2 linked regions of the Homo sapiens genome follow. The protein of the gene in region 1 purifies or fractionates together with the protein of each later gene. This does not show direct contact. Each region holds a gene or a part of one and is shown in the gene's direction. Other genes may lie near its edges. The genes, in order: CRTAC1 and TRAPPC9.

Region 1 (3,814 bases):
AGGCCTTCAGCCCTCTGAACGGTGGTTCCTGTTAACACGGACTCTGAGCTCCATCCTTTCTGCTGTGCACCATACCTCACGCAGGGCCCGGCACACAATAGTTGCTGCCTAAGAATGTGTTCAATGAACACAGAAATACAGTGGAATTGATTGCTGGGTGTTATCCTTAGGACTCCTTAACTGCATTGTCACCTGAACCAAGAAGTGTCTCTGCACAGCTGTGGCAGAATCTGCAGGACACATATGGTCAAAGGGACTGTGGGCATCACACTCATGCACACCAACACACAAGCCCACCTCATGGGGCATCTGCCAGCTCTTTCTGCCACCCAGCCACCAAAGGCTCCAGCTCAGGGGACTCCGACCCCCTCCTGAAGCTATGACTGTATCACGGCCCTCTGGTGTTTCTCACATGCAACCTGCAATGTGGTAGGAAGTGCGATGCCAATTCTTCCTTACACCCTACCTTCCCATCATTGCCCCACACATCTAGGGCAGAGCACCCAAGGCTGTGAGAATACACCAAGTGAGAAAAATTCTAGAGGAAAGCTCACTGCCATCATCAGCTGAGTGCAGAGAAAGAGCAGGACTTTTCTAGCAGACGTTTCTGAAATAAATAACATCAAGATTCAGAGTTCCAAACAGAACCGCTGCAACCCAAAGGGACCCCTTTCCTCTCTTTGCCTCTGGAATTCACCTTTGTATCCTGCAGACATGTGCTTGGAGCTTTCTGAGAGCCAAGCACTGTGTTAGATACTGCAAGAGAAGCAAAGATGAACAATGCAAGGTCCCAGCCTGCAGAGAGCTCACATTCTACCAGGGGAGATCAGATGCATTTATACAGAGCTGTAACACAGGCAGAAAGTAATAAAGCCCATGAAGAAAGAAGGGATTGCTTCCAGCAGGATGGTCCAAGAGGGCATGGAGGAGGTAGCATTGAGTGGGGTTAAACCCTGGGTAGCATCCAGAACTAGGAAACCCAGGGGCCACTTGAAGGACAAGGAAGGTTGGTTGAAGGTAGTTGTGTCCCTGCCCCTTCTTCATCCATCAACTGCCCTTCCCCAGGCTGCCTATAATTCATCCATTAGAGAAGGAAAAATCAATATTTACCAACATAAATTAAAACCCAGGCAGGGAACAGGCAGAGTATAGGCAGGGCCTGGGAGCAGAGAGTGGCTCCGTGGGCAGCCAGGTGGTAGCCCATGCACATTGGGACCCGGGGATGCTCAGGGGACAGAATGGAGCAGGTGGGCCTTCTGGTCCAGCGGCCTCTGAGACCCCACCAGAGCAAGCCTGTCTCCTCTCCTGCAGCGTCATCCGTAGAGAGCACGGAGACCCCCTCATCGAGGAGCTCAATCCCGGCGACGCCTTGGAGCCTGAGGGCCGGGGCACAGGTGAGGGGCACCTGGGGGATCTGGCCTGCACTGCCCCCTTAGCACTGTTCATACACTGGGGTGAGGGCGGGAGGGACGGGGCAGCCAGTCCCACAGCAGAGCCACTCCTGTCCCTGCCACACTGAGGGCTGAGACTCAAGGGCAGGGGTGAGAGTGGAGATGGGAGAACCCTGGGGATGGCCAGGCAGGAAGCAGAGGAGAGGATGGTCCACTCCCCCAATCCCAGGCTGATGGGGGGTGGGGGAATGGGAATCTGTGGGTCTGTGGGCAGGAGCTTCTCTGGCCATGCCTTGCCAGGTGGGGATGGAAAGGAGAGGAGAGAGCCCCTTCTGCTCTCAGGCAGAGGATCTTGCCATCTGACCCCTCCCCTCTTGGCACTCAGCTTGTTGTCAGACAGAGCACTGGGCCAGGGGTCCCAGAACCCAGCTCTGCCATTGCCTCACTTTGTGGTCTTGGAAAAGTGACTTTACCCTCTGGGTCTTGTTCTCCACATTCATAAAATGGGGATAATTATATCTGCCCTCTTCACCTCTTTGGGTTGTAATGACGACCAAAAGGAGCCTATGTATATGCAAACACTTGGTAAATTGACAAAAAAAAACCTGTGCAAATATAACAGGTGTGTATTATTCAAACCATAATAGAAAGACCAGAAAGAAGACCATGTGGTCTGAGTAATTTGCACACACCCTCTCCATGCAAAGACCAGGGGAAGGAAGGAAATGTCTGTCCCGTGAGTCCTATCATGAGGCTGCTGTTAGGAAGGATAGGAGATGGGTGCCAAGCCCCAGCCTTCCTGCCCCGGTGCTGTGCTTTCTCTGGCTCCCACGCCCAGGGCTGTGGATACTGCACTTGGTTGGGAGCGTGTCTCCTTTGTGGGTCTCCTGGATTACGGCCAGAGGTGAAATCTGCATTGTTTGTAGGGGGTGTGGTGACCGACTTCGACGGAGACGGGATGCTGGACCTCATCTTGTCCCATGGAGAGTCCATGGCTCAGCCGCTGTCCGTCTTCCGGGGCAATCAGGTGCGCTAAGACCTCAGGAGCCACAGATCCCAGCCCTGTGTGCTCTCGGGTACCTTGAGTTGGTGAGGGCAAGGTGCCGGGGTGCTGGCTTGGCCAGCATGGTGGGTAATGGAAGTCCCGGGCCCTGGAGGAGGGAAGTAAATTCCAGCAGCACCGGGAAGCTCAGGAAGGGCCGCCTTGGGAGAAGCCCTTGCCTCTCTGCCTTCCAGTATCATTTATCTGCCAAACACTGTGCCCTGAGTCCCTCGGCTTTTGTCTCCTCTGTCTGCAGTGCCTCTCCTTCATTCAGCCAATCTGTCTTCGCCTCATTCATTTTTCTTGTTTGGCTTCCTGTTTCTATCTTTTTCCTCTGCCTGCTTTCTTCTCTTCCTCCTTCTTCTCCCTCTCCCCCTCCCGTCCTCCCTGGCTCCCTGCTCTTCCCACCCACCATGCTGATGCCCACCGGGTGTCTGCCTCTCACCCTCTCTGCAGGGCTTCAACAACAACTGGCTGCGAGTGGTGCCACGCACCCGGTTTGGGGCCTTTGCCAGGGGAGCTAAGGTCGTGCTCTACACCAAGAAGAGTGGGGCCCACCTGAGGATCATCGACGGGGGCTCAGGCTACCTGTGTGAGATGGAGCCCGTGGCACACTTTGGCCTGGGTGAGTCGGGGTCCGGTGGGGGACAGTGAGCTGTTATCAGGATGCTGACTGATTCAGGGACTCACAGCCCGAGCATCCTTGGGCACCGCTCCGCTCTACTGTGACAGCCATGGTGGACACCAGCTACTGGGGACAAACCCTACTCTGAGATGAGCCTGAGCTCAAGAAGAGGCGAGTGGGAAGTGCTGGTTAGATTTTCATGCATCTCACTTGCTGGAGTCCCCACCCCAGTGCCTCTGTGGAATTAGTTCACCTTGGGGTCAGAGTGTTTAATCCTCCATTTGTTCAAGGCTGTAGGCTTGTTCAAATGCTGGGCTGCACCAAACGTGTCCAAACCAGCTGTTTCCCTGGCCTCTTGGGAGCTGGTTCAGTCTTGGACAGAAGGCTTGGGAAACCATGCGTTCTCAACGGGAGTGAAGTCACCCCAAAGGGGAGAGAGTGGGTTCTTGGCAAGGGCAGGGGGATGACAAAATCCTATCATATATATATATATATATATATATATATATATATATATATATATATATATATATGTAAAAGCATCAGGGGCTGGGCACAGTGGCTCATGCCTATAATCCTAATACTTTGGGAGGCTGAGGCAGGTGGATCCCTTGAGCTCAAGAGTTCGAGACTAGCCTGGGCAACATGGCGAAACCTCATCTCTACCAAAAGTACAAAAAAAATAGCCAAGCGTGGTGGCGCATGCCTGTAGTCCCAGCTACCTGGGAGACTGAGGTGGGAGGCTCGCCTGAGCCC
Region 2 (3,574 bases), on another chromosome or scaffold:
GCAACTTGGCAGGAGAGATGGTGCCGTAGGAGGTCGTGGATGGTTGATGCCAAGAGAGGCCCTCCACCCGTGGTGGGCAAATGTCCAGGCCTGGGCTGGCAGCCCAGGGCTGTTTCTGGGTGCTCCCTGGCCCCAGGGTGGCGTCTGGTTACCATGGCTGTGTGTGTCCATGTCTGCAAGCAGTTCTTCAATAAATGGCCTGCCTCCCCCTCCCTGCCTCCCTGCATCTGCTAGCCCAGTGCAGTCCGGGGCCCCCACCCAGCCCGTCAGCCCCCACCTCAGGTGGCTGGCTTCCCAGCAGAAGCCGGACCCAGGAAGGGACGGGTTCTGAGTTAGAGATCTCACATAAGCAAACGCTGAGACAGGAATCTGGTCACCAGCAGCTTGTCTGGGAGGTGGAAGGAGGCCTGCAGGGGAGGGAGATCACCAGTGAAGGAGTGTGACTGGGCCCGAGCTGCCGCCACAGTGGGCAGCTGGCCCTGCGTTCCTCAGGGAGGACCGGAGAGAGAAAGCACACGGCTCACATCTCCCTTGAGGGCCAGAGCTGGGGTGTGTCTACACTACCCACAAGAGTCCTGTTCTGGGGGCAGGCTTCTGGCTGTGTTGACCCTTAGCTCCCCAGGTCCCAGGGAGGATAAACAGCCCTTGGTCCCCAGCAGATACCAGGCTCGTCAGGTGCCCGTTGGGCACTGAAACTCCCATGGAGTATTGGGGGACAGAGAGCGGGGCTTCCTAAAGGCCAGTTGGCCAAACAGGCAGAGCCAGGAAGTGGCTGCCCTGGCCTCCCATGGGGCAGAGTCATGTTGGCATCAGGAGGCCTGCGGGGCTGAGGGAACTTCCTGAGGACCTGAAGTCCCAGGCCCAAACCTCCCTCGCTGGGAGCAAGGTCACCCTGTGGCCTCCGGCCTAAGGAACAAATTTTTTGTTCCATCTGTGGCCTCCTGTTGTCGCTCAGTGAATGATGGGAGCACACTGTGATGTGGTGTGGGCTGGGGGCATGTGGGGGCGGGTGTCCAGTGGCCCTCAGTTCCTGGAGCTCATTCAGCATCTGCTCGAGGCTCCCCAGGGAAGGCAGCCCCAGAAGGTCTGGCTGCAGTAGGGGGTGGAGACCCCAGGGCGGTCTCTTCAGCCCTTCCGTTCAGGATGCCTCAGCGTAGTTGAGGGCCTGGCCACCTGGGCTGTTTCTGAATGGAACAAACAGCATCCATGTGTGTCAACCTCAACAGAGCCCAAAAATACGCCATTGAATGAAACAACACATTGCAGGATGATGGGCTCAGCCCAACCTCACTTGTGTAGACAATGTCCCCCCAAATTATAAATTTTCTATGCCTCAGAACGTGTCTATAACAACATGTTTAAAAGGTAGAAAGGATACACATCCCCTGTAGAAGAGTGACCTGAACTGGAGTTGCATTTGACATCTGATGTCAGCATGAGGGTGCTGGTCACCGGGGACTTGAGTACGTACTTTCCTTTCAAAAGCACAATAGATCAAGATACAGGTACACACATAGCTACAGATATAGATCCAGCCACAGATCCAGATTAGATATAGATGCATATAGAAGCCTAGAAAAGCCAATATGGAAAACTCTGGCAGTGTTTGATTCTGAGTGGCAAGCATATTGGTGACTGTAATTATTTCTTGCAGTTTTCTATATTTTTTAGTTTCCCAAACTGCAAAAAATACCCACAACAGTTACCAGAGAAAATGCTGGATGCCACAAGAAGGAAGAACCTCAAGGGGCAGGAGGCAAAGTTGTCTTCTTGGAGGAGGGGGTGTTAGAAATAACCCAGGCCTCCTGGAAAATGACCCAAATACAGCCTGGCTCTGCCAGCCCCAGGCCCTTCCCCACCCCCAGGGCACCCTTTCTGTCCCAGTAGAGAAGGTGACCTGGAGTCAGGCCTTGTGTGTGCTCCAAGCGTTTGGAGCTTTACCGTGGGATGTGGGGAGCCAGGGGTGTTGTTTGCTGGCATTTCTGTGGCTGGGTCTTTCTGGCTGTGGAGCTGTGTTTGTGGGCAGTGGCTGAGATGGAGGACCTGGGGCAGGTGTCTCAGTGACAGCGCAGTATCCTCCAGCCTCTTCCAGGGCCCCACGCTACTGGCTACCTGGCAATACAGTCCAGCAGTTGCTGCTTCTCTAGGCCCCTGGTGCATTCAGAAACCTCCTGAAGGCCAGCGGAGGGTAAGCCAGGAACAGATCATGTCCATTGCACTTCACTAGCTGAGCGAGTTGGTTCTGCCCTTCTGATCCTTGGTCCCTCAGGGCCAGGACAGGCCCGGTGACCCCATAATCATGCAGCCGTCATGCTCCGTCATCTGAAATTCACAAGGAAGGCAAGGATTCAAAGGAAGATGTCTGAGATGCTGAACTCCAGCTCAGCCACTTGTCAACTCCTTGACCTTGGACAAGTTACTTAAATTAAGCCTTGATTTTTTTTCATCTGAATAAATAGAGATAAAAATACTTATTTCATGGACACTTTCATATCAGTTTATTTGATTTAACCTCCTAGATTTTTTTTTAGCACATGATAGCAACTTCTTAATAAATACTGGGTCCCTTCTCCTAGCCTTCCCATTGCTGTTCTTTTTAATTCCATCCACATGTCCTGTGCCTGAAATATCCTGTGCCATGTGCCTGAAATTCCATTCTTCTCCTGGAACCCTTAACAGGCCACATTGCTATGCTCCGTTAGTCCCCTGCATGGCTTAATGTATTAGGTAACATGAAGCATGTAAGGAAGAACTTTCTAACACAGGTGCTGAAATGGGACAGGAAATGCTGATGGAGTGAGCTCTTTGTCAATAGAAGTATTCAAGCAAAGTCCGGACCTGTAGATGGTTTCAAAACATGTAAGCATCATTTGGGGCTTCTGAGCCTACCAGCCAAGAAATTGTCAATGATGACTTGTTAAGAGGTATTTCTGATCCCAGTAAGCAGGGAAGAGAGAGAGATGTATGTGACCACATGGCTCTTGGGGCCTCAAGCAATGTCTTAAGACACAATAAATTTTGATCAAAAAAGGCTTTCAACATGAAGGGCTAGAGATCTAGACTAAGGGTCTAGGCTAAGCCTCTTACTGAAAACACATTTGTAAGTGCATCCATGACCCGGCAGGAGAGTCAGAAATATTCACCCCAGTACCTGTGTGTAGGCAAAGTCCTGGGAGGTGAGCTGTGCACTGATGCCAACTTCCACTTTGAGGGGTTTTGCCAAAGCTGGAGTATCAATGTCTTCAGCCTTCCAAAACTGGAGGAAAGATGACAAAGCTCAGGGCCCACTGGCTGGGGAATCGAATAGATGACTGCTCCGCATCAATTTGAGAGCCTAAAGATTACACCTTTAGTAAAGGATGAACTAAAAATAATCCTCTTCCCACCCTACTAGGAGAGTAGATATAACACTTCCCTGTCTTGACCCTTTGATTCCATCTTGACCCTTTGATTCCATATTGACCCTCCCATGAATTTGCAGTCCCAAATTACACTCCCTAACTGCCTCTTCCAAACCTTAAGTTGTTAATTAATTTCAAAGACAGACAGCACTCCATAATACAGGTACCAGACA

What was found.
Region 2: the proteins of CRTAC1 (region 1) and TRAPPC9 purify together in Homo sapiens (affinity purification with mass spectrometry; 2 studies listed by BioGRID and IntAct, with this or other methods). This does not show direct contact.

The regions. Positions count from the first base shown.
Region 1 is NC_000010.11:97,894,489-97,898,302, reverse strand, and holds part of CRTAC1 (cartilage acidic protein 1 isoform A precursor), read left to right. Parts: intron 1-1,311; coding exon 1,312-1,394; intron 1,395-2,317; coding exon 2,318-2,418; intron 2,419-2,889; coding exon 2,890-3,058; intron 3,059-3,814.
Region 2 is NC_000008.11:139,726,981-139,730,554, reverse strand, and holds the end of TRAPPC9 (trafficking protein particle complex subunit 9), read left to right. Parts: 3' UTR 1-2,830; downstream 2,831-3,574. UniProt on the Homo sapiens protein: Functions as an activator of NF-kappa-B through increased phosphorylation of the IKK complex. May function in neuronal cells differentiation. May play a role in vesicular transport from endoplasmic reticulum to Golgi.